Regions from separate parts of the Homo sapiens genome. Here region 2 is linked to region 1. The links come from fine-mapping of genetic effects on gene expression. A gene starts in region 1. The other region holds a variant in brackets. All regions are shown on one strand. Distances are between the middles of the regions. Region 1 holds the start of DPP9-AS1 (DPP9 antisense RNA 1). Region 2 has its middle 48 kb from the start of ZNRF4.

What was found. PIP is the estimated chance that this variant, and not a neighbour inherited with it, causes the effect.
Region 2: its variant is fine-mapped to the expression of DPP9-AS1 in monocytes after R848 (Quach 2016, PIP 0.95).

Annotation. Positions count from the first base shown.
Region 1 is chr19:4,671,794-4,683,014 of GRCh38, reverse strand. DPP9-AS1 (DPP9 antisense RNA 1) reads right to left here and starts at 3,733. Exons shown (of 3, transcript NR_164163.1): 1 at 3,476-3,733; 2 at 1-214. It overlaps DPP9 (dipeptidyl peptidase 9), which reads left to right. Exons shown (of 22, transcript NM_139159.5): 20 at 177-319; 21 at 3,069-3,180; 22 at 6,359-7,788. The coding sequence ends at 6,451. RefSeq lists enhancers at 2,925-3,426, 6,084-7,044.
Region 2 is chr19:5,495,282-5,511,163 of GRCh38, reverse strand. No RefSeq gene overlaps it. Among named protein-coding and RNA genes, the nearest start is that of ZNRF4, 48 kb to the right of the region's middle. RefSeq lists a cis regulatory region at 3,005 and enhancers at 2,921-3,090, 11,409-12,241. The variant T/C (reference allele first, on the strand shown) is at 6,763.

The DNA of each region.
Region 1 (11,221 bases):
ACGCACCGTCCACGGGGGCCACGCGGTCTGAGGGCCCCTTCCTTGCCGGCCCCATGTGCATGAGCGCTCCTCACGGGCTCCAGGGCGGCCCCGGGACAGCGGCTGATGCTGGCTGTAGGACCCGACGCCTGTTTCTCTCTCTCTCTCTGCCCCCATCTGTCTGCTGTGTCCCTCAGGTGGCCATCGCGGGTGCCCCGGTCACCGTCTGGATGGCCTACGACACAGGGTACACTGAGCGCTACATGGACGTCCCTGAGAACAACCAGCACGGCTATGAGGCGGGTTCCGTGGCCCTGCACGTGGAGAAGCTGCCCAATGAGTAAGGCCACTGCCCTGCCCTGCGCTCCTCCCCGGGGCTTCTCCTGCACCCCGGCACCAGCTGTCTCTATGAGGGTGCCCTCCTGCCCCAGCTGGCCCTGCCCAGGGAGCCTCAGGCCATGTGGAGCCTCCCCGCTGTGCTCCTGTGGTGGCGTCTGCCTGCATGTGCCTCACAGTCCCCTCCAGCCCACCCTCCCTCCTCACTGCACCTTGCAGGAAGGGGCACCCAGGGATGCTTGTCTGGGGAAGGAGGCTCACAGCCCTGCCCTGGGAAAGATGAGGGAATTCGAGTCACTGCTTTTCACAGGCAAGCCTCCCCCACTCCCCTGCATCCTGCTGGAGGCCCCATCACAGCCTCTGTCTTGTGCTTCAGGACATAGATGTCCACAGGGCCAGGGACCAGCTCAGATGTCCCATTTTATGCTTTTGACATGGGTCTTATTCTCTGATGGAGAGAAAACAGTGTTCCCATTTTCTGGCACGTCTCCAGAAAATGTTCCCCGGAATCCCATGCAGTCACCTAGGGGGTTAAAAATCTGCCTGGGCATGGGCCGGGCGCGGTGGCTCACTCCTGTAATCCCAGCACTCTGGGAGGCTGAGGCGGGCGGATCGTGAGGTCAGGAGATTGAGACCATCCTGGCTAACAAGATGAAACCCCGTCTCTACTAAAAATACAAAAAATTAGCCGGGTGTGGTGGCGGGTGCCTGTAGTCCCAGCTATATGGGAGGCTGAGGCAGGAGAATGGCGTGAACCCGGGAGGCGGAGCTTGCAGTGAGCCGAGATCGTGCGCCACTGCACTACAGTCTGGGCGACAGAGCCAGACTCCAATTCAAAAAAAAAAAAAAAAAAAAAAGTCTGCCTGGGCACTTTGGGAGGCCAAGGCAGGAGGATTGCTTAAGGTAGGAGTTCGAGACCAGCCTGGCCAACATGGTGAAACCCCGTCTCTACAAAAAAATACAAAAAATAAGCTGGGCATGGTGGTGCATGCCTGTAATGCCAGCTACTTGGAAGGCTGAGGCAGGAGAATCGCTTGAACCCAGGAGGTGGAGTTGGTAGTGAGCGAACATCGTGCCACTGCACTCTAGCCTGGGCAACAGAGAGAAACTGTCTCAAAACAATAATAATAATAATAGGCCAGGAACGGTGGCTTCAGGAGTTCAAGACCAGCCTAGCCAACACGGTGAAACCCCATGTCTACTAAAAATATAAAAATTAGCCAGGTGTGGTGACACACACCTGTAATCCCGGCTACTCAAGGAGGCCGAGGCAGGAGAATTGCTTGAACCTGGAAGGGTGAGGTCGCAGTGAGCTGAGATCGCACCACTGCACTCCAGCCTGGGCAACAGAGCGAGACTCTGTCTCAAAAAATAATAATTTATTGTGGTGAAATTCACAGAACCTAACAGTCACCTTAAAGCAGCCCTCGGTGCATTTGCAGTGGTTCCAGAACCTTTCCAGCACTCCAGCGTCAAACCCTGTTCCCATTCCTTAGCAGTCACTCCCTGTCCCGGGGCAGCCACCGATCTGTGCTCTGTCTCAATGGGTTTATAAGTTCCGTTAATTTGGATGAATGTAAACTGGAATTTCAACGGCGACGTGTGGCCACTGGCTCCCGTATCGGACAGGAAGGGCTAGGGCAGCCGATTCTGGTGAGGCTGCGTGTTGGCCTCACCAGTAGCCCATGCCACACTCCAGACCACAGACAGCAGCAGACCTAGGTGGGTTTTTGTTTTGTTTTGTTGAGAGAGTCTCACTCTGTGGTCCCGGCTGGAGTGCAGTGGCTTAATCTCAGCTCACTGCAACCTCCACCTCCCAGGTTAAAGCAATTCTCGTGCCTCAGCCTCCTCAGTAGCTGGAATTACAGGCATGCACTACCACACCCAGCTAATTTTTGTATCTTTAATAGAGATGGGGTTTCACCATGTTGCCCAGGCTGGTCTTGAACTCCTGGCCTCAAGTGATCCACCTGCCTTGGCCTCCCAAAGTGCTGGGATTACAGGTGTAAGCCACCATGCTCAGCATTTTTTTTTTTTTTTTTTAATCATAGCTCACTGCACCCTCCCAGGGTTTAGGTGATCCTCCTGCCTCAGGCTCAGCTGGGACCACAGGTGTGCACCACCACGCCTGGCTAACTTTTAAATATTTTTGTAGAGATGAGGTTTTGCCATGTTGCCCAGGCTGGTCTCAAACAACTGGACTCAATCCACCCAGCTTGGCCTCCCAAAGTACTGGGATTACAGGCATGAGGCACTGCACCCGGCCTGGGTTTTTGTTTTTGTTTTTCTAATTTAGAGATGGGGTCTTGCTCTGTCACCCAGGCTGGAGTGCAGTGGTATGATCATAGCTCACTGTAGCCTCCACCTCCTGGGCTCAAGTGATCCTCCCGCCTCAGCCTGCACAGTAGCTGGACTTACAGGCGCACCACTACACTCAGCTGATCTTTTTTTTTTTTTTTTTTTTGAGATGCTGTCTCCATCTGTCGCCCAGGCTGGAGTGAGTGGCGCGATCTCAGCGCACTGCAACCTCTGCCTCTGAGGCTCAAGCAGTTCTCCTGCCTCAGCCTCCCAAGTAGCTGCGATTTCAGGCACCTGCCACCATGCCTGGCTAATTTTTTTTAAATATATTTTTAGTAGAGACAGGGTTTCACCATGTTGGCCAGGCTGGTCTCAAACTCCTGACCTTGTGATCTGCTCCCCTCCTACCCCACGGACAATCCCTGGCCTCAGACCCTTCCCCATCTGTTTTCCAGGCCCAACCGCTTGCTTATCCTCCACGGCTTCCTGGACGAAAACGTGCACTTTTTCCACACAAACTTCCTCGTCTCCCAACTGATCCGAGCAGGGAAACCTTACCAGCTCCAGGTGGGTGGCTGTTGGGGGCTTCGGCCCCTCCGCGAGCCGACAGATCCCTGGGAGTGGGGGGTGGGACGAGGCGGGGTGGCTTCCCACTGTGACCAGGGGCTCCCTGGGGGATCTGGGGCTCCCAGCCCCCCACCCCACAGCCCTGTGTCCCCGCCCTCCCAGCTCCCAGGGCCATTGATGTATCAGTCCTGTCTTGACAGCTCAGGGTTCCGCCTGCCTTCGGTGCTGGAAGCACGGGATCGGGGGCTGCCACACCCACCCCTGCTCCGGGCCTAATGGAGGGAGGAACCCTTACCGAAATTGCCCCGCAGACGGGCTTTATTTGAAACTGAGAAATTGCGTAGAAGAAACCGCTGAGTGCTGAAGGCCCTAGCAGGCTCCTTCCTAAGGCGCTGGGGCCAAGCATTCCCTGAGGAGGCAGCAGTGAAGGGTGCTAGAGTGAGTGGAGCCAGCCAGGCTTGGGGGACCGAGCGGGAGGAGAGTGGGGGAGTGGGTGGAGCCTTGGCAGCAACGTGGGGCTCAGTCTAGGTGGGCGGGGCTTCTGCGCTAAGGGGTGGGCATGGTTATGGGCGGGGCCTCAATGGCGAGGAGGGTGGGACTTCTGCAGAGGGACGGGGCTTCAGTGTTACGGTGGGTGGGGCTTCCGCAGTAAATGGTTGGCCTCGGTGTGGGGAAGGGCCTCGGTAGTGGAGAGGGTGGGGCTCGGTGTGGGAGCAGCGCCTCAGCGGTGAGGAGGGTGGGGCTTCTGCTGTAGAGGAGGGGGGGCCCTCAGTAAGCAGGGTGGAGCTTCTGCTATAGAGGGGTGGGGCCTCAGCGGGGGCGGGGCTTCGGCTGGATTTTCAACTGAGGGTGGTGGGAGGTGACTCGGGCTTGTGAGCAGAGCATAGAGTTGGGCGGCTTGCCATTTGACCCACATTTCTCTGGCTGCTTTGTGGATGGCCTGTGGGGGACAGTGGGACGTGGTCCATAGTTGTACCGGCGGGAGATTCAGGAGGTATCTTGGAGGCAAGAGGGCCAGGTTTTATTACCTGTGGACTGCAGACAATTTCTGCTTCCTGGGCGCCTCGGCATGCTCTGTCCTGTGGGGAGCGTCCTGTTGCCTTTCAACAGAGCAGGGAAATGGGGCCGCAGAGCAGGAGGGAGGCAGAGCCACCTTGTGCGGTGATGAGCTGATCTCTTGGCGGTGCCCCCCACCGACACCCCACATCCCAAGCAGCCCAGGGAGTGATATCAGGCAGGGCTGGAATGGAACTTCAGATGTCTCTTCCCAGCCTGAGACCCGAGCCCACTGCCTTCCCAGGGGCCAGGTAGCTGGGACAGCATTCACCCTTGCACCTCGTTTCTCCGTCTTTGAAACGGTCATGATAACTCGGCCTCCTTGAAGGCTGCTGGGGCCAAACAAGGTCTTCAGAAAAGCATTCAGGCCGGGCGTGGTGGCTCACGCCTGTAACCCCAGCACTTTGGGAGGCTGAGGCGGGTGGATCACTTGAGGCCAGGAGTTTGAGACCAGCCTGGCTAACATGGCAAAGCTCCGTCTCTACTAAAAATACAAAAATTAGCCGAGTGTGGTGGCACACGCCTGTAGTCCCAGCTACTCGGGAGGCTGAGGCAGGAGAATCGCTTGAACCTGGGAGGCGGAGGTTCCAGTGAACCGAGATTGTGCCACTGCACTCCAGCCTGGGCGGCAGAGGGAGACTCCGTCTCAAAAGAAAAAAAAAAAAGAAAAGAAAGAAAAAAGAAAAGCATTCAGCACACAGGGTGGGCCCAGGGTCCTGTCTCACTGCCTCCCCACAGGAAGTAGAACGTGAGATGAGATAGGCTGTGGGGTGGGAACATGGCATTGTGTGGGACAGATAGAGTGCACCTCTCCTTCTGTTTCAAAGACCCCAAAACATCTGGGCCAGGCAGCTGGCGGCCCCAGGCCCTCTTTATACACAAATCACATTTGTCACATGCCGGGCCTTGGGCTTGGTCTGGAAGCTCATTGGGGAGCCAGACAGACCCTCTATCTGCCCTCTTAGCCAAGAGGAAAAAGTAACCAGGCAGCTGGGACCCAGAGTGGCATAAAGGCATGGGCACAACATGTGCATATGGCTGGTGTCAAGGGCAGCAGAGTCTGCCCCAGGGAGTGCCACTGCCCGGGCTGGGGAAGGAGTGGGCCCTTGAAGTGCCTGGGGCAGCAGGACCTGGAAGCTGGTCTTGATGTCAGACTGGCAAGTCCTTGCAGAGGTCTAGGCTGGGGACGGTGTCATCAAACTCGTGATTCATCCAGGGATGGATTAAAGAAGGCAAGAGTAGAGGAGGGGAAACCAGTGGGTGGCTTGGTGCATTCCCAGGGTGATGGGCAACAGTGGGGACCAGGAGCCTGGAGAGGAGGGGATGATTCAGAAACCCATCTCACTGGCAGGAGGTGGCGTAGATGGGCCACCTGCCCCTGCTGCCGGCCAGCCCCGGGGTTCTTTGTGGAGAACGTAGGGTTATTTTCATGCCTTGGTCCTACCAACCCCTAGGGGGCAGTGGGGAGCTATAGGGGTTGTCCGTCAGTGCCTCGAGAGCCCTCCTTCGTGGCCAGAGGCAGGACCTGCATCCCCGTGTGGATCCACCCCCAGGCCTGGCGTTGGCTGGTCCAGGTCTCAGGAGCCTGGGGAGTTCCATGTTACTGCCTGCCTCTTGGCTTGATCCCCCTTGGGCGCTAAGAGGACCCAGAAAATGCTTCACAAATCCTCACAGGCAGCTGTCCTAAGGCCCAGAGCTAGTCACATGCCTTTTGGTAAAGTGGAAATGGCTCGAGACCAGGGCACCAGATGTCCCTGAGGCTTGAAGCCTCAGCCACCTCCACAGAGATGAGTTGGTCGCCCGTCAGCCGGTTTGGGGGAAAGAGGCAAACGGTTTCTTCCTAAATCTTTCCTCTGTGCAAGCGCGTGCACACCGCAAGGCGTTTTGTAAACTTTGTCTTACCAAATCCTCCCAAAGACTGTGAGGTCCGGATTCACCCCATTTTTTAGAGAGGCCCAGAGTTACACTGCAAGTCAACAGCCGAGGTGGGATTCAAACCCAGATCACTGGGCCTCAGAGCACCTGCGCCTTCCCGGATGCCCTGAGCCAGAATAAGGGAGGAGCCTAGGACACGGGGGTGGTCCGGCCACGCCCCCCAGCCCTGCCTCCTGTCTCCCCGCAGATCTACCCCAACGAGAGACACAGTATTCGCTGCCCCGAGTCGGGCGAGCACTATGAAGTCACGTTGCTGCACTTTCTACAGGAATACCTCTGAGCCTGCCCACCGGGAGCCGCCACATCACAGCACAAGTGGCTGCAGCCTCCGCGGGGAACCAGGCGGGAGGGACTGAGTGGCCCGCGGGCCCCAGTGAGGCACTTTGTCCCGCCCAGCGCTGGCCAGCCCCGAGGAGCCGCTGCCTTCACCGCCCCGACGCCTTTTATCCTTTTTTAAACGCTCTTGGGTTTTATGTCCGCTGCTTCTTGGTTGCCGAGACAGAGAGATGGTGGTCTCGGGCCAGCCCCTCCTCTCCCCGCCTTCTGGGAGGAGGAGGTCACACGCTGATGGGCACTGGAGAGGCCAGAAGAGACTCAGAGGAGCGGGCTGCCTTCCGCCTGGGGCTCCCTGTGACCTCTCAGTCCCCTGGCCCGGCCAGCCACCGTCCCCAGCACCCAAGCATGCAATTGCCTGTCCCCCCCGGCCAGCCTCCCCAACTTGATGTTTGTGTTTTGTTTGGGGGGATATTTTTCATAATTATTTAAAAGACAGGCCGGGCGCGGTGGCTCACGTCTGTAATCCCAGCACTTTGGGAGGCTGAGGCGGGCGGATCACCTGAGGTTGGGAGTTCAAGACCAGCCTGGCCAACATGGGGAAACCCCGTCTCTACTAAAAATACAAAAAATTAGCCGGGTGTGGTGGCGCGTGCCTATAATCCCAGCTACTCGGGAGGCTGAGGCAGGAGAATCGCTTGAACCCGGGAGGTGGAGGTTGCGGTGAGCCAAGATCGCACCATTGCACTCCAGCCTGGGCAACAAGAGCGAAACTCTGTCTCAAAATAAATAAAAAATAAAAGACAGAAAGCAAGGGGTGCCTAAATCTAGACTTGGGGTCCACACCGGGCAGCGGGGTTGCAACCCAGCACCTGGTAGGCTCCATTTCTTCCCAAGCCCGAGCAGAGGGTCATGCGGGCCCCACAGGAGAAGCGGCCAGGGCCCGCGGGGGGCACCACCTGTGGACAGCCCTCCTGTCCCCAAGCTTTCAGGCAGGCACTGAAACGCACCGAACTTCCACGCTCTGCTGGTCAGTGGCGGCTGTCCCCTCCCCAGCCCAGCCGCCCAGCCACATGTGTCTGCCTGACCCGTACACACCAGGGGTTCCGGGGTTGGGAGCTGAACCATCCCCACCTCAGGGTTATATTTCCCTCTCCCCTTCCCTCCCCGCCAAGAGCTCTGCCAGGGGCGGGCAAAAAAAAAAGTAAAAAGAAAAGAAAAAAAAAAAAAAGAAACAAACCACCTCTACATATTATGGAAAGAAAATATTTTTGTCGATTCTTATTCTTTTATAATTATGCGTGGAAGAAGTAGACACATTAAACGATTCCAGTTGGAAACATGTCACCTGCCTGAGGTTCCTTCTAAGTCCTGGGGCTCCTGAGTGGGAGGGGCTTCCGGGGGGCAACAGACAAGACATGGCAGAAGGGCACTGCCATCTGTGGGGACTCCTGGGGTGCTGGGGCTGCCTGGGCACCATGCCCTGATCAGACTGACCCACAGAGGATGGCCCCAGCCACCTGATGAGGGTAGTCCTGTCCTCGCTGGTCTAGGAAGGTCTACCGGTCTCCAGGGACTCAGCTCTGGCTGTCGTGTGTGGCCTGGACTGGCCCCCCGGGCTCCCCAGAGCCTCAGCACAACCCAAATTACAGCATCCTCCATGCTGGATCCTCCCCCAGCCAACACCTCCTTTTCTACCTGAGACTCTGCACCCTGAGGACCACGACAGGCCAAGGCCCTCCTCACATCGTCCCAGCAGCCAAGACACCCAGCAGACCCTGTTTGCAACGTGCGGGGCATGTGGGCTCCATTTCTAACAGCAGGGATGGACTGCCCTGCTTATCCACTTGCTCCATCCTTTGGAAATTTCCACTTTTTTTAAAAAAAAAAAAAGGGGGGGGGGGGCTTAAAAAAACATACGAGGCCGGGCGTGGTGGCTCACACCTGTAATCCCAGCACTTTTGGATGCCAAGATGGGTGGATTGCATCAGTCCAGGAGTTGGAGACCAGCCTGGGCAACATGGTGTGAAACCCTGGCTCTACAAAAACAAAAATTAGCTGGGTGTAGTGGCGCATGCCTGCAGTCCCAGCTACTCAGGAGGTTGAGGCTGGAGGATCACTTTAGTCTCGGGAGGTCGAGGCTGCAGTGAGCTGTGATCATGCCACTGCACTCCAGCCTGGGTGACAGAGTAAGACCCTAGTCTCCAAAACAACAACAACAACATCAAAAAGGAAGTATAAAAAAGAAAAAAATTCCAGTACAAAATGATATTTAGGGGACTCAGGCACAGTGGCCTCCACCTGTAATCGCAGCTAATCAGGAGGCCAAGGCGAGAGGTTGGCTTGAGCCCAGGCATTTGAGATCAGCCTCAAAAAAAAAAAGGCCATGTGTGGTGGCTCACGCCTGTAATCGCAATACTTTGGGAGGCTGAGGCCAGCAGATCACTTGAACCCAGGAGTTTGAGACCAGCCTGGGCGATATGGTGAAACCCCATCTCGACTAAAAATTGAAGAATTAGCCCAGCGCAATGGTGCACGCCTGTAGTCCCAGCTACTCAGGAGGCTGCAGTGGGAGGATCACTTGAGCCCTGGAGGAGGAGGAGGTTGCAGTGAGCTGAGGAGGTTTCTCCAGCCTGGGCAACAGAGTGAGACCCTGTCTCACACAGACACACACACACACAAAAAGGAGGCCAGGCACAGTGGCTCACACCTATAATGCCAGCACTTTGGGAGGCCAAGGTGGGTGAATCATTTGAGCACAGGAGTTTGAGACTAGCCACAGCAACATGGCATAAACCCCATCACTACAAAAAAATAATAATAATAATAGCTGGGTGAGTGTTGCATGCCTTGTAATCCCAGCTACTTGGGAGGCTGAGTGGGAGGATCATTTGAGCCCAGGAGGTTAAGGCTGTAGGGAGCTGAAACTACCACTGCATTTCAGCCTGGGCGACAGAGCAAGACCTTGTCTCAAATTTAAAAAAAAAAATAAATAAATAATCTAATATTTGTGTGATCGAATCTTGTCCTTTAGGACTGACAGATTTCATATCATGATTAGTGGGATCCGTGGAATAATTTGTTGTTTGCTCCTCTGTCACCCAGGCAGGAATGCAGTGGTATAATCACAGCTTACTGCAACCTCGACCTCCTGGGCTCAAGTGATCCTCCCACCTTGGCCTCCCAAAGTGTTGAGATTACAAGAGCCACTGTGTCCAGCCTTGTTTTCTTTTCTTTTTCTTTCTTTCCTTTTTTTTTTTTTTTTTTTGGACACAGGGTTTCGCTCTGTCACCCAGGCTGGAGTGCAGTGGTGTAATCTCAGCTCACTGCAACCTCTGCTTCCATGGCTCAAGTCATCCTCTGGCCTCAGCCTCCCAAGTAAGTGGGACTACAGGCACAAGCCATCATGCCCAGCTAATGTTTTTGTATTTTTTATAGGGACGGTGTCTTGCCATCTTGCCCAGGCAGTTTTTAAACTCCTGAGCTCAAAGTGATCTGCCTCCCAAAGTACTGGGGCCAGCCTTGTTTTTTCTTTTAATCCTTTTAGTGTGATGATTTGTGGTGGGTGGGTGAAACTTGGGGCCGAAACCTTTCTGGAAAGAACACACACACGCATGCACACGCATACGCACAACCTGCCTGGGTTCCGTAGCAGACTCCCAACAGCTCACAACTGAAATTCCTTGTTAGCCGCAGAGCTCGGCCATGCATCGAATCCTTCATGGTGACAGGCTGAAAGTTGAACACCGTGGTAAGGTAATGGGGACTCCATCAGTGGAACCGTGCTGTGTCACTCACCTAAGGAACAGGGCTGCTCTGTGCTTGTCCAGTTTATGGAGACAGTGTCTCATGGGTCCAGAACAGACAGCTGCATGGAGGAAGAGATTTGTTTGTTTATTTCTTTATTTATTAAGACGGAGTCTTGCTCTGGGACCCAGGCTGGAGTGCAGTGGCATGATCTCAGCTCACCGTAACCTATGCCTCCTGGGTTCAAAAGATTCTCCTGCCCCAGCCTCCCAGGTAGCTGGGATTACAGGCGCCCACCACCATGTCCGGCTATCTTTAAAAAATAATCTTAAAATATCTTTAAATATATATATATATAAGTATATATATGAATATATGAATATATATAAGTATATATGTGAATATATGAATATATATAAGTATATATATGAATATATGAATATATATAAGTATATATATGAATATATGAATATAAGTATATATATGAATATATGAATATAAGTATATATATGAATATATGAATATAAGTATATATATATGAATATATTAATATATATATTCATATATATGAATATATATTCATATATATGAATATATGAATATATATAAGTATATATGAATATATGAATATATATATAAGTATATATGAATATATGAATATATATTCATATATATGAATATATGAATATATATTCATATATATGAATATATAAGTATATATGAATATATGAATATATAAGTATATATGAATATATGAATATATATTCACATATGTGAATATATGAATATATATTCACATATGTGAATATATGAATATATATATTCACATATGTGAATATATGAATATATATATTCACATATGTGAATATATGAATATATATATTCACATATGTGAATATATGAATATATATATTCACATATGTGAATATATGAATATATATATAGGAATGGGGTCTCACTATGTTGCCCAGAATGGTCTAGAACTCCTGAGGTCAAGCAATCCACCCACCTTGGCCTCCCGAAGGGTTGG
Region 2 (15,882 bases), 830 kb before region 1:
TCTCTACTAAAAATACAAAAATTAGCCAGGTGTGGTGACGGGCGCCTGTAATCTCAGCTACTCGGGAGGCTGAGGCAGGAGAATCACTTGAACCCGGGAGGCAGAGGTTGCAGTTAGCAGAGATGGCGCCACTGCACTCCAGCCTGGGCTCCACCTCCACCTCTCAGGTTCAAGAGATTCTCCTGCTTCAGCCTCCTGAATAGCTGGGATTACAGACATGTACCACCACGTCCGGCTAATTTTTTGCATTTTTAGTAGAGACGGGGTTTCACCATGTTAGTCGGGCTGGTCTCAAACTCCTGACTTCAAATGATCCACCCACCTCGGCCGGATCCCAATCTCAAAGTGTCGGGATTACAGGCATGAGCCACCGCGCCCGGCCTGCAGGCTCCTCTTTAGCTGTCTTCCTGCCTTACAGGGTGAGACTCTGTCTCAAACAAACAAACAAACAAAAAAACCAAAGAAGGACTAGACCAGCCACTGCTGGCTGTGAAGGTGGAGGAGGGGGCCCTGAGCCAAGGGATGCGGATGTCTCTAGACGCTGGGAAAGGTGGGAATTGGATTCTCCCCTGGAGAGTAAGATCTAGTGGGATCAGGAAGAGGCACAAAGAGACAGTTCCAACCTCCACAACTTTGCATTTGTGATGCCATGTCCTTCCAATCCCAGCTGCAGCTACGCCTCCTCCAGGAAGCCTCCCTGGGTCCCACCGTCCTTGTGGCCCTGTCGTGTCCTGCAACGGAGAGCTCAGAGGGTCTGGGGACTGTCGCAGGTCCCTCCCCCTTTTCCAGGTGCACTGCTATCATGATTATACGTCACTCTAGAAAAAACTGATTACATTGCAACCTGACCTTCTCCCTGTCTGCGGGGCCCATTACCACGTCAATCAGATGGCTCAGAGAAGGAAAAATTATTTTATCTTTAACAATACTTAAAACTGCTCAGCAGGGCCATCTTGGGGACTGGGCGTTGGCAGCTGTGGGTAGGTGCTCTGGGTCTCTGCATCCTACAGGCTCCCCTTTATTTATTTATTTATTTATTTATTTATTTATTTATTTTTGAGACGGAGTCTCGCTCTGTCGCCCAGGCTGGAGTGCAGTGGCATGATGTCAGCTCACTGCAACCTCCACCTCCCAGGCTCAAGAGATTCTCCTGCTTCAGCCTCCTGAATAGCTGGGATTACAGGCATGCACCACCACGCCTGGCTAATTTTTTGCATTTTTAGTAGAGATGGGTTTTCACCATGTTGGTCGGGTTAGTCTCAAACTCCTGACTTCAAATGATCCACCCACCTTGGTCAGATCCCAATCTCAATGTGTCGGGATTACAGGCATGAGCCACCGCGCCCGGCCTGCAGGCTCCTCTTTAGCTGTCTCCCTGCCTTACAGAAAAGTCTGGAACCTTCTGATTTGCAAACTGAATTCCCACCCTCCTGGGCCACCCCATCCGCAAAGGGGGCTCGCCCTTCCGGAACCAGCCCAGATCCCTCTCTCTTGTCTCTCTCTTTGTCTCTCTGTCTTTGCCTCTGTCTCTCTCTTTGTTGGCACTGGGGAGACCCAAGAATCGAGTGCTCATGGGCTGGTGGGTATCCACAAATCATTTCCTCAGCCTGAGCACCGCGTGATGGAGGGGCCACCATCACACCCATTGTGCAGTGTGGAGACCGAGGTCCAGAGACACAAAGCCCTGTTTCTGTTTCTTTTTTTTTTTCTTTTTCCTTTTTTTTTTTTTTTTGAGATGGAGTCTCGCTCTGTTGCCCAGGCTGGAGTGCAGTGGCGCAACCTTGGCTCACTGCAAGTTCTACCTCCCAGGTTCACGCCATTTTCCTGCCTCAGCCTCCCGAGTAGCTGGGACTACAGGTGCCCGCCACCAAGCCTGGCTAATTTTTTTTTTTTTTTGTATTTTTAGTAAAGACGTGTTTTCACTGTGTTAGCCAGGATGGTCTTGATCTCCTGACCTTGTGATCCACCTGCCTCAGCCTCCCTAAGAGCTGGGATTACAGGCGTGAGCCACCGTGCCCGACCCCTCTTGCCTCAATTTTCCCATCAGGTGAATGGGAGTCAGTCTCGTCCCTTACGGGCTGTTGGGAGCTGGAGTCCTGCCCGTCACAGAAGGATTGTGAGGTAAGATACAGGACACCCAGTTCAACTTGAATTTCAAATAAACAGAAAATACTTTTTTAAGAAAAAAAAAAAAAAAGTCTGAGTATACCCCAAATATTGCATGGGCTATACTTATACTAAAAACTCACTTGTTGTTTGGCTGAAACTCAGATTGAACCCGGCATTCTGTATTTTTTTTTTTTTCTTTCAGACGGAGTCTCACTCTGTCGCCCAGGCTGGTGTGCAATGGTGCGATCTTGGCTCAATGCAACCTCCACCTCCTGGGTTTAAGCAATTCTCCTGCCTCAGCCTCCTGAGCAGCTGGGATTACAAGCACACACCACCATGCCCGGCTAATTTTTGTATTTTTAGTAAAGGCAGGGTTTCACCATGTTGGCCCGGCTGGTCTTGAACTCCTGACCTCTGACCTCAAGTGATCCACCTGCCTCAGCCTCCCAAAGTGCTGGGATTACAGGCATGAGCCACCGTGCCTGGCTGGCAACCTGTATTTTTATTGGCCACATCTGGCAACCGGAGCATGAGGCTCTGGAGAGATAGAAGGTTCTGGACATTGTGGGGCAGACTCATTTGTATCAACAGTATCAGGTTGTCCTGGCTGCTATGAGGACAATGTTGAGATTTCCCAACAGAGTGCTGGAAGATTTGTTTTTTTTTTTTTAAATTATTACTTGGCCGGGCACGGTGGCTCACGCCTGTAATCCCAGCACCTTGGGAGGCTGAGGCGGGTGGATCACAAGGTCAGGAGATTGGGACCATCCTGGCTAACACGGTGGAACCCCGTCTCTACTAAAAATACAAAAAAATTAGCCAGGCTTGGTGGCAGGCCCCTGTAGTCCCAGCTACTCGGGAGGCTGAGGTGGGGGAATGGCGTGAACCTGGGAGGCGGAGGTTGCAGTGAGCCGAGATGGCGCCACTGCACTTCAGCCTGGGCGACAGAGCGACACTCCATCTCAAAAAAAAAAATTATTACTTTATTTATTTTAATAGAGACCGGAGTCTTGCTGTGTTGCCCAGGCTGGTCTCGAACCCTGGCCTCAAGCAATCCTCCTGCCTTGGCCTTCCAAAGTGCTGGGATTCCAGGCATGAGCCACTGGGCCCAGCCTGATTTGTCTGCAATGTGGCACAGTTGCCTCTGCTGGAGCCAGGGACCGCCTCTGTCACTGGGAAATGGTGGCAACCATTACGGCTTGACCCTCTCCAGCAACGCTGGGCAGAAAGCCCATCTCATGAAGCAACAAAGAACCCAACTAGATTCAGGCCGCTGTCTCCCTGTCCCGTCCTCCCCCCTCCACCCCAGCCACCCATCACAGTCCATCCCCAAGGCCGGTGGCTCGCCCTGTCCTCAAGGTGTCAATACCTCCCCTTCTAAATTTCACCCTGGAAATCAATTAGGGTCCGGGCGAGTTGATTATAAATCAGCTATTTTCATAATTGTTATGTCTTTAATAAATCAGAACTGTGCACGTTGCATGCAGGCAAAATGGAGCTGTTCTCCTGAGGTCATCAATTACCCGGAGGGGAAGACAGGGCCGTGTCCGCATTCCCTCGTCCTCCACCCGATCCGGAGACGCTGCCGGCCGGGCCAGGGAGTTCCTGGACCCGGGCCGGGCCGTTCCATTAGGGAATTGCTTAAGCAGCGTTTTAAATAACAAAAAGGGATATCATTTAATTTTTTCGCAACGTGGAAATCAATACGCTGTCCTTCAGGCGGCCTGACGGATCGTCTTGGCGAGCTTCTCCGAGTTAATCTAATTTTTCTGGGTCTGGCTGGGACCAGCCGTCTTGCGCGAGGCCTCCTGCGTGCCGGCATCAGCCCAGCCTGGAATCCATGGTCTCAGACGGATCTTCCCACAAGTGCTGTGGATGTATTTGGCAGGCGGGGAGGCAGAAAGGTGGGCAACAAGCCATTTCTTTTATTTATTTATTTTTTTGAGATGGAGTCTTGCTCTGTCACCTAGGCTGGAGTACAGTGGCGTGATCTCGACTCGCTCACTGCAATCTCTGCTTCCCAGGTTCAAGCAATTCTCGTGCCTCAGCCTCCTGAGCAGCTGGGATTACAGGCGCCCGCCACCACGCCTGGCTAATTTTTGTGTTTTTAGTAGAGATGGGGTTTCACCATATTGGCCAGGCTGGTCTCGAACTCCTGACCTCAGGTGATCCACTTGCCTCGGCCTCCCAAAGTGCTGGGATTACAGGCATGAGCCACCATGCCTGGCCCGAGCCATTTCTTTCTTTCTTTCTTTTATAGAGATGGCTTCTTGCTATGTTGCCATATAGAGTTGGAGGCCAGGGTGGTCTCCAACTCCTAACCTCAAGTGATCCTCCTACGTCAGCCTCCCAAAGTGCTGGTATTACAAGTGTGAGCCACTGTGTCCAGCCAAGAAGTCATTTCTTTAGGGCAGTGGCCTTGACCAGGGATGATTTTGCATGCTCTGGGGGCATCTGGCAATGTCTGCGGACATTTTTGGTTGTCATGACTTGGGGGGTGCTCCTGGCATGGAGTGGGTGAAGGCCAGGGGTGCTGCTCAGCACCCTGCAGTGCCCAGGATGGTCGCAGCCCAGAGAATGATTCAGCCTCAAATGCCCACAGTGGCAAAGATAGGAAACTCTGCCTTAGGGCAATTCATGAAAGGCAGTTTGGAGAACCCTGATCTCTTCCCCCATCTTCGCTTCTGAACCCTGTGTCCTGTTTATTCCAAAGTCCAGGGGGACAAGGCCCTCTGTGACAGTGCAGAGACTCTGGTGCGAGTCCTGGGCCTATTCATCCAGTAGATATTGAGCACTTACTGTATATCAAGCACCATTCTAGGTATTGGGGATCCAGCCACCAATAAGATGGACAAAACACCTGCCCTCATGTGGTTTAACTTCTAGTCAAGGTAGAGAGTTGAGCAGGTAGGTAAACCAAAGGTGGATTCAGAAGTCAGTGAAGGAGGCCGGGTGCAGTGGCTCACACCTGTAATCCCAGCACTTTGGGAGGCCGAGGTGGGTGGATCACTTGAGGTCAGGAGTTTGAGACCAGCGTGGCCAACATGGTGAAACCCCGTCTCTATTAAAAATACAAAACTTAGCTGGGCGTGGTGGCATGCATCTGTAGTCCCAGATGCTTGGGAGGCTGAGGCACGAGAATCACCTGAACCAGGAAGGTGGAGGTTGCAGTGAGCCAAGATTGCGTCACTGCACTCCAGCCTGAGTGACAGAGACTCTGTGTCTCAAAAAAAAAAAAAAAAAAAAAAAGAAGTTAATGAAGGGGATAAAACGGGGATTGGTTGGGGTGGGGCTGTGAGGATAGTGAAGTCTGCTCCAGCTGCCATCACTAAACAAAGATGCTCCTTAACTTACAATGGGGTCATTACCCAATAAACCCATCAAAAGTTGAAAATATCATAAGTCAAAATACGTTTTAGATTTACAATATTTTCAGCTTATAATGGGTTTACCTGGAAGCCACTTCATTGTCTTTTTTTTTTTTTGAGACAGAGTCTTGCTCTTGTCACCCAGGCGGGAGTACAATGGCACGATCTCAACTCACTACAACCTCCACCTCCTGGGTTCAAGCAATTCTCCTGCCTCAGCCTCCGGAGCAGCTGAGATTACAGGTGCGTGCCACCATGCCTGGCTAATTTTTGTATTTTTAGTAGAGACGGGGTTTCACCATGTTGGCCAGGCTGGTCTCGAACTCCTGACCTCATGATCTGCCCGCCTTGGCCTCCCAAAGTGCTGGGATTATAGGCGTGAGCCACCATGCCCAGCCTCCACCTCACTGCTACTTGACTTAGAGTAGCATACTAAATGTATATTGCTTTTGTCACCCTCAAAAAATAAAAAAATTATGTTGAACTACTGTAAATCAGGGACTGTCTGTACCACAGGCTGCGTGGCTTAAACAAAAGATCATTTTCTCACAGTTCTGGAGGCAGGGAAGTCCCAGAGCAAAGCGCCAGCCAATTTAGCTCCTGGTGAGGGCTCTCTTCCTGACTTGCAGATGGCCACCTTCTTGCTGTGTTCTCATATGGCAGAAACAGAGCAAACTCTCTGGTGTCTCTTCTTGTAAGGGCACTAATCCCATCATGAGCCTTCCTTCAATTACCATCCCATAGTTGGGGAGGGGTGTTAGGGTTTTAATTTATGAATTTGGATGGGGGGGACACAAACATTTAGTCCATATCAAGGGAGCTTCTCTGAGGAAGTGGGATTGGAACTGAGGCCGGTGGCTTAAAAGAGTCTTGACAAATGTTACTATGGAGCTTCTGGTCATAAATAATAATGATGGTTATACTAACTTGCATTCAGAATACTCTTTGAGCCAGACCCAAGAGATTGTCTCTTTGATTTTCATTTATCAGATGAGAAAACTGAGATTCTGGGATGAGCAAGCAAAGAGAAAGGAGCTCAATGTCTCACCCTGCAGGACATGAGGAACTGGAACAACTTTGCCTGGAAAGGGCATGCAGAATACCCACCCAGCTCTGCCCCAATTTACTGGGCAAAGTAGGCCAGGTGAGGAGGAAGGGAAGGGTTCTCTGGACAAAGGAGGAGGCTGTGTGGGTAAAGTCCTGAAGGTGGGGAGAGGCTGGTGTGCAGGAGCAAATCTCTGCCTTTCTTTTCCAGCTAATTTGGTGGAATTGAATTCTTAGACCA[T/C]GTATTATCTCCTCTGGGAATGCTTCTTGGAGGGCTATGGGCAGAGGAGGGACAGGATCTGACTCAGGTGCTCACAGGTGCCCCTGGTGGCTGCTGAGAGGAGGATAGACTGTGGGGGGTGAAGTCGGGAGCTGGGCACCAGGGAAGAGGGGACTGTGTGGTTCCAGGCAAGTGACGATGAGATGTCAGACCAGGGTGAAGGCAGAGGAAGAGAGAGGAGTGGCCAGATTCTGGATAGGTTTTGAAGGCAGACAGGACAGGATTTGAGGGATTAGATATCAGGTAGGTGATAAAAGATGAGTAAAGAATATAGGGCCAGGTCACATATGGAAGCCAAAAGACTGTGGGTCTGCAACGCTGGGCTTCTCAGACTTCCCATTTATAAAATGGGGTCAATACCACCTGCCTCCCAGGTTTACAACCAACAACTGTTATGGGCCCAGCCTTGTTAAGCCCATGACTGTGGGAGTTTCTATGCTGAGGTGTCCCTGACTTCCTAGTGATCATAAGCAATTTCAAGCTTCATCTACTACAAACCAAGGCAGGGATGGTGTTTAGCTGGAAGATAGACGGTGTGTGTGTGTGAGCAGCCTCTTCTGGTGAAAGGTGACATTGCAACCTTGCTCTATTAGACATGGCAAATAACAGACAAGAGGAGGGAAAAGGTGAAATTTGGAAGTTCCTGAGATAAAGAATAACTTATTTGATTTTCTGGACTTTGGAGGGATATGGGGAAGCTTGGAGCTGGGGAAATGCTATGTAATAGGCAGAAGGGAAGAGAAGTTGAAGGCAGAAATTCTAAGATTCACATGGAGGACGCCATGTGAAGATTAAAGTTATGCCACCTCAAGCCAAGGAACTAGCAGAAGCCAGCAGAAAAACACGGAATGGATCCTTCCCTAGAGCCTTTGGAGGGAGCATGGCCCTGCTTACATGTAGGTCTTGAATTTCTGGCCTATAGAACTATGAGGAAATAGGCCAAGCATGGTGGCTCACGCCTGTAATCCCAGCACTTTGGGAAGCCGAGTGGGTGAATCACGAGGTCAGGAGTTCAAGACCAGCCTGGCCAGTATGGTGAAACTCCATCTCTACTAAAAATACAAAAACAAAAAATTAGCTGGGCGTGGTGGTGGGCACCTGTATTCCCAGCTACTCAGGAGGCTGAGTCAGGAGAATCGCTTGAACCCGGGAGGTGGAGGTTGCAGTGAGCCGAGATTGTGCCACTGCACTCCAGCCTGGGCAACAGAGCACGACTTCATCTCAAACAAACAACAAAAACCCCAAAACTATGAGGAAATACATTTCTGTTGTTTGAGCCACTCACTTCGTGGTATTTTGTTTTGGTAGCCCCAGCAAAATCATACACCTGTCTTTTTTTTTTTTTTTTTTTTTGTATTAATTTGAGACAGGGTCTCACTCTGTTGCCCAGGCTGGGGTGTAGTGGTGTGATTATGGCTCACTGCAGCCTCAACCTCCTGGGTTCAGGTGATCCTCCCACCTCAGCTTCCCAAGTATCTAGAACTACAGGTATGCATCATGCCCAGCTATTTTTAAAAATTATTTTTGTAAAGATGGAGTCTCCCTATGTTGCCCAGGATGGTTTCAAACCCCTGGCTTCCAGTGATCCTCCTGTCCCAGCCTCCCAAAGTGCTGGGATTAAAGGTGTAAATCACTGCACCCCACCAATAGCTGCCGTTTGAAGTGAGGTGTGGCTTCATGACTTGCTTTGGCCAATAAAATGTGAGTAGAAGTCATGTTAATCCCCTTCAGTAAAAGCCTTTAAAATCCAGTATCCCATTCTTCATATTCTTTCCCCTCTCTTAGAGACCACTGATGTTTCCTCCATCTGTCTCAATGCCTGAGTGAGGCAGACACAGAGGCCCCCTGCCAACCTGTATTGGGCATATAGTGTGGATGACAAATAAACCTTGGTTGTTTTAGAGCCACTAAGATTTAGGAGCTTGTTCCAGTTACTGTGGTTGTATAAATTACCTGAAAAATTAGTGGCTTAAAATAATAATTTATTACCTCTCATGGTTTTATGGGACAGGAATTTGGGAGCAGCTTAGCTGGGCAATTCTGACTCCGAAGTTCTTACAAGGTTGCAGTCAAGATGTTGACTGGGGCTGTATCATCTGAAGGCTTGACTGGGGCTGGAAGAGCTGCTTCCAAGCTCATCCACATGGCTGTGGGTAGGAGTTCCTTTCTCTCTTTCTCCCTTTCTCTCTTTCTTTCTTTCTCTTTCTTTCTCCTTCCCTTTCTCTCTCCCTTTCTCTCCCTCTCCCTCTTTCTCTCTTTCTTTCTCTTTCTTTCTCCCTTTCTCTCGCTCTCTCCCTCTTTCTCTCTCTCTCTCCCTCTTTCTCTCTTCCTTTCTTACTTTCTTTCTTTCTCTCTCTCTCTCTTTCTTTCTTTCCTCTTTCTCAATATGTTACCGAGGCTGGAGTGCAGTGTCACCATCTTGGCTCACTGCAACCTCCACCTCCCAGGTTCAAGCAATTCTCCTGCCTCAGCCTCTGGAGTACCTGGGATTACAGGTGCTTGCCACCACAGCTGGCTAATTTTTGTATTTTTAGTAGAGACAGGGTTTCACCATGTTGGCCAGGCTGGTCTTGAACTTCTGGCCTCAAGTGATCCATCTGCCTTGGCCTCCTAAAGTGCTAGGATTACAGGTGTGAGCCACTACACCCAGCCTGTCCTTCACTTTTGTATGCAGAATTTTCCATAGCACTGCTTGAGTGTTCTTCCAACATGGCTGCTGGCTCATTCCTAGAGGGGTTGATCCAAGGAGGAAGTTGAAGTGCCTTTTATATAAGGCTCAGCCTTAGAAGTCACTCACTGTCACTTTTATATGCCTCACGAGTCAGCCCCGATTCAGTGGAGGAGGAGACCCCACAAGGTCATGAATACCAGGAGGCAAAGGCTCATTGGGGCCATCTTGGAGGCTGGCTCCAAGAGGTTCTTTGTTACTGTAGCAGTCCATCCAGACTGATGAAGACACCATTGCATTGCCTGGCAGTAAGACTTTAGGAGACTCACTTTTCCTTTATGAGCCCTAGTTTCCACATCTGTGAAAGAAGGAGGTGCATTTGTCAGCAATGTGGGAGACCCTGCAGGGGAAGGGGGAGTTCCAGGAAGTAAACTGAGTCCACTGCCTTCATGACAAACCTGGAGATGCATTCATGGGAGAAAAAAGCCTCCTTCCACCTTCCCTCTCATTGCCAGAATTGAAGATTTGGACCCAGAAATCCTGGCCAGGAGGACTAGAGGTGCTGTAGCATGGGGGGCTACGTTTTGGCTCTACCACCAAACAGCTGTGTGATGTTTAGCAGGAGGCTGGATCTGCCTGAGCCTCAGTTTCTTATTCTGTAAAATGGAGCAGTACCTACTTCACACAGGAGGTGAAGATTAGAGGTTATCACAGTCCAGAGGCCCTAGCACAGCTGATAGCAAATGCGCACTGATATTGCCTGTTGACTAAAATGGCTACCAGAGGACTAATCCCCGAAAACTACCCACTGTGGGGGCTTCTGATTCACCGAGACTTAGAGCTGAAAGACATTCTAAGAATCCTGGATTCCAATCCTCTCATTTTCTAGGTGGGGAAACTTACCCCTGGAAAAGGGCAGAGAATTCCTGGCTTGGGTAGTAGCCAGCTTCCTGACCCCCTTTTCAGGAACTGCACTGCTGTGCTACCTGTGGGCATGGAACAGCCAGTCAGGTGAGGGCTCTTGTTTGAGTGAAAACCTGGAGGTGGAAAACTTGCAGAATGTTGGGGAAGAGGCTGGGAGTAGATCTCTCAGGATAGAATGAACCTTGATTCTTATTTTTACTTACTTATTTATTTTTGAGACTGGGTCTCACTCTGTTGCCCAGGCTGGTGTGCAGTGGTGCAGTCTTGTCTCACTGCAACCTCCACTTCCCGGCCTCAAGCAATCCTCCCACCTCAGCCTCCCAAGTAGCTGGGGCTACAGGCGTGTGCCACCACGCTCAGCTAATATTAAACAAAGTTGTTTTTATAGAGACGAGGTCTCACTCTATTGCCCAGGCTGATCTTGAACTCCTGGGCTCAAGGAATCCTCCTGTCATGGCCTCCCACAGTGCTGGGATTACAGGTATGAGCCACCAAGCCCTGCTGAACCTTGAGTGCAATGGTGCGATCTCTGCTCACTGCAACCTCTGCCTCCTGGGTTAAAGTGATTCTCCTGCCTCAGCCTCCCAAGTGACTGGGATTACAGACACCTGCCACCATGCCCAGCTAATTTTTATTATTTATTTAATTAATTTTTTTATTTTTTTTTTTTGAGACAAAGTCTTGCTCTGTCACCCAGGCTGGAGTGTAGTGGTGTGATCTCGGCTCATTGCAACCTCCGTCTCCCGGGTTCAAGTGATTCTCCTGCCTCAGCCTCCTGAGTAGCTGGGATGACAAGCAAGCACCCTCACACCCAGCTAATTTTTGTATTTTTAGTAGAGATGGGGTTTTGCCATGTTGGCTAGGCTGGTCTTGAACTTTTGACCTCAGGTGATCTACCTGCCTTGGCCTCCCAAAGTGCTGGGATTACAGGCATGAGGCACCGCGTACTGCTGAACCTTGATTCTTGAAGACCACTTGAAAATGCTGGATCAAACCATTCCTGAAGTCCACCTCATTTCTGAATTAAATGTAAACCTGACCTACTTTGCCTCCTGACCTGCCGAGGCTGGAGGACATTCGTAAAATGCACACACTGTGGGCAGAAAGATGGAGAGCTGGCAGAATGGGCTTCTCCCCTGGTGCTGCCATGACCTCACTGTTGCTTGTTGGATTGAACCATTTGGACATCTTTGTCAGCTGGAAGCTATGGAAAGCACTGGAGCACAGAAGTGATGTCTTTAAAGCCCGCAGTGATTACAGTTTTCTTTCCCTGGCTGACTTGGAGAAGGCTTCAGCCTGAGCCGGCCGGCTGGGATCCCCCAATCTCCCTGTGTCCCCACCCCCCAGCCCCATTGCTGGGCTGTCATCGCTGCGGGAGAGCCTGGGAACAGGAGACGAGAATGACCCGTGATTGTCGCAGAGGCCTCTGCTCTAATTTCCCCGAATGGGTTTTGAGCGGCTAATGCGGCCCCCGCTGGGCAGGAGATGGAGCGCCTGGCAGGGCCTCCCAGGCTAGAGCATTTGAGGCCCACCCACTGTAGCCGGGGCCTTAACCCGCTCACTCTCACTGCTGGGCCACTGGGAAACTTCCAGTCCTGGGGTCTCTGAGGGGAGCAAGGGGGGCAAGACCCTCCCACCTTCTGGATCTGGCTGAGCCAGCGTGGGTCAGTGCAGCTGAGGCTACCGGGTGGGCTTTAGGATTTAGAGGTAGCCGAGCTGGGAGGGATTCAGCCTCCTCCAGGGGCGGTAAAAGAATCTGACACTCAGAGTCAGGCAGTGTCTACAGTCTCAGCCGAGAGTCAGGGCTCAGGCTGGGATTGGGGCTCAGCCTGGGGTTGGGGCTCTGTTGATATTAGGGCTCAGGCTGGGATTGGGGCTCAGCCTGGGGTTGGGGCTCTGTCGATATTAGGGCTCGGGCTGGGATTGGGTCTCAGCCTGGGGTTGGGGCTCTGTCGATATTAGGGCTCGGGCTGGGATTGGGTCTCAGCCTGGGGTTGGGGCTCTGTCGATATTAGGGCTCGGGCTGGGATTGGGGCTCAGCCTGGGGTTGGGGCTCTGTCGATATTAGGGCTCGGGCTGGGATTGGGGCTCAGCCTGGGGTTGGGGCTCTGTCGATATTAGGGCTCGGGCTGGGATTGGGGCTCAGCCTGGGGTTGGGGCTCTGTCGATATTAGGGCTCGGGCTGGGATTGGGGCTCAGCCTGGGGTTGGGGCTCTGTCGATATTAGGGCTCGGGCTGGGATTGGGGCTCAGCCTGGGGTTGGGGCTCTGTCGATATTAGGGCTCGGGCTGGGATTGGGGCTCAGCCTGGGGTTGGGGCTCTGTCGATATTAGGGCTCAGGCCAGGGTCAGCAGGGCTCAGGCAGGGTTAGTCCAAGTCTGGAGCTCAGTCTGCGGTTGGGGCTGACCCTGGTTGACCCTGGCTCAACCCAGGGTCTGAGATTCAGTCCAAGCTCAGCCAGGATTTGGGTTCAGTCCATGGTTAGGATCAGGTCAGGTCCGGGACTCGGCTGCAGTCAGCCCAGGGCTGGGGCTGCACCTGGTTTAGACTTATCTGAAAGTGGGCACTGGGTCGGTGTTTGTTGAGTGAATAAGCAACTCCACTAGTGATTTCTACAAGGTCTGCAGGGATGGAGCCCTAATGCTGGAATTTCAGATACAGTGATGGCCACTACGGTTCCTGTACCCTTAACTCCTTCAGGGACGGATGTGGCCATGCCTTGGATGGGGAAACCAAGGGCACGTGGCTTCTCTCCCGGAGCCCCCACCCCAACCCTGGCAGGTGGGAGATGGTGGAGACAACGATAGGGGTGGGAGGGGCAGACCTAAATGGTTTTGGTTGGAGCTCTTCATGTGTGGGGCAGAAGCCTGACAAGTGTGGGGATGTGGGGACTTGATTCTGCTGAGGATGAGGCAGCCATGCTGGGGTTCTGGGCAGCAGTGAGTTGAGCCACCTGGGACCAGGCTGGGACTTGCTCAAGAAGGAGGAGCCATGGCCAGGGCTACGTCGGGGGTGAGGATCATCTCATCTTCCCGGAGAGCATCAAAGGTCTCCTTTTGAGGTTCTCTCCACATGAGGTGGTGGGAGCTACAGTCGCAGAGACTCAGGAGGAAGAGGTTTATGGAGACCCTCCATGGCAACCATCTCCCTTGGGGGTCAAAGCCCAAGTTCTCTCCAAGGCCCACAGGCCCTGCACGCCTGTCCCTGCCCTGACCTCCCTCCTCCTTCTCTCCCATTGCTCACTCCACTCCAGCCACACAGGCCTCTTCGCTGTTCCTCCAACACCCCAGGCGCAGTCCTGCCCCAGGGCCTTTGCACGGGCTGTGCCTTCTGCCTGGAGTGCTCTTGCTCCAGGTATCCACCTGGCCAGCTCCATCTCAACTTTTGATTCTCTCACCTCCAATATCATCTCCTCCAGGAAGCCCTCCTGATTTCCTAAGCTTAAATAACACTTCTGAGTTTCCTGACTTCATCACCTACTTTCGTGATTTTGTGGGTTTTTTTGTTTTTTTTTTTTTTGAGGCGGAGTCTCACTCTGTTACCCAGGCTGGAGTGCTGTGGTACGATCTTGGCTCACTGCAACCTCTGCCTCCTGGATTCAAGCTATTCTCCTGCCTCAGTCTCCCAAGTAGTTGGGATTACAGGTGCCCGCCACCATGTCCGGCTAATTTTTGTATTTTTAGTAGAGACAAGGTTTCACCATGTTGGCCAGGCTGGTCTCGAACTCTTGACCTTAGGTGATCCTCCTGCCTCGGCCTCCCAAAGTGCTGGGATTACAAGTGTGAGCCACCACGCCTGGCCCATTTCTTCCTTTTTTTTATTTCTTCTGGGACCTGGGCAGTTGGAAACAGCCCGGTTCTCACTTGCATGTGAAAGGCCGGCCTCTGGCGATTCCCTCTGTGTGGTGGCCCCTCAAAGAGCCATGTGAGATGAGATGACTGGCGAGAGTTACCAAAGGGCCGTGATGGGTGCTGGGTACATGATGGTGAAAATGACAGATGTGTTTGCTCTGGTAACAGACAGGCCTAGGGTGCTGACTGTGTGCTAGGGACACAGCAGAGACGAGATGGAGGCAGCCCCACCACTACAGAGCTCGCGGTGACCGGGCAGTGACAGTGGGGCTGTCATGGGGGATGTACAGCCCAGGGGGGCTCCAAGGTGGAGGTGCCTTCCAGGTTGAGACCTGGAGGGAGAGGACAGTGTAGTCAGGTGGAGCATGGGGAAGGGTGTTCTGGGCAGAGGGAACGGCAGTGCTGCATGGATGCTAGAGCTCTGACTGTAGCTCAGTGTCCCTCCTGCGAGCCCAGCCATCACCCTGGGGTTCCCCCCTGAACATCCTTCAGGACTTCCACCCTCAGTGGCCACCCTGGCCTCGGCCTCTCCCCTCAGCTGGCTCTTTCTCTTAGGTCCCCATCTCAGCGGTGGTCCCACTGGGCCCCCATCCCTGAACTGGAGACCTGGACACTGGCTTCTGTCCAGCTTCTCCCCTCTCCATCACAGCCTGTCTGTCCCCACATCCTGCCTGCTCTACCTCCAGGCCCTCCCTCCCATCTGTCCCCTCCCAGTTCTGCCCCAATGCTAGTCCCCCACTCCCACCCCAGATCTCCTCCCTGGTCTCCCAGCCTCTCTCCTGTACCCCCCGATTGCCTGAGGGAGTCACACACAGTTTCACCTCCAGGCTGCCACCTCTGCTTAAAACATTCCCCCACATCTCTTCTCTTGGCTCCTTCTTCTAACTCTTCCTTCCGCTGTCTTTGCAGAGCCGCCTCCTCCAGGAAGCCTTCTATGATCCCTCTTGCCCTGTGCACCTCCCAGACAGCTCTATCACCCTATTTTTCAGCCTGTTTGATCCTGGCTCCATCTTCTTCCACAACAGCAAGGGTTTGCTTATTTTATTTTATTTATTTATTTATTGGAGACAGAGTCTCGCTCTGTCACCCAGGGTGGAGTGCAATGGCGCAACCTTGGCTCACTGCAACCTCCACCTCCCATGTTCAAGCAATTCTACTCAGCCTCCTGAGTAGCTGGGATTACAGGTGTGTGCCAGCACACCCTACTAATTTTTATATTTTCAGTAGAGATGGGGTTTCGCCATGTTGGCCAGGCTAGTCTCAAACTCCTGACCTCAAGTGATCCGCCTGCCTCCACCTCCCAAAGTGCTGGGATTACAGGTGTGAGCCACCGTGCCCAGCTAATTTTTGTATTTTTGTATTTATTTATTTTTGAGGCAGAGTCTTGCTCTGTCACCCAGGCTGGAGTGCAGTGGCGCGATCTCAGCTCACTGCAACCTCTGCCTCCCAGGTTCAAGAGATTCTCCTGCCTCAACCTCTCGAGTAGCTGGGACTACAGGCGCCCGCCACCACGCCTGGCTAATTTTTGTATTTTTGGTAGAGACAGCATTTCACTATGTTGGCCAGGCTGTTCTCAAACTCCTAACCTTGTGATCCGCCCGTCTCGGCCCCCCAAAGTGCTGGAATTATAGGCGTGAG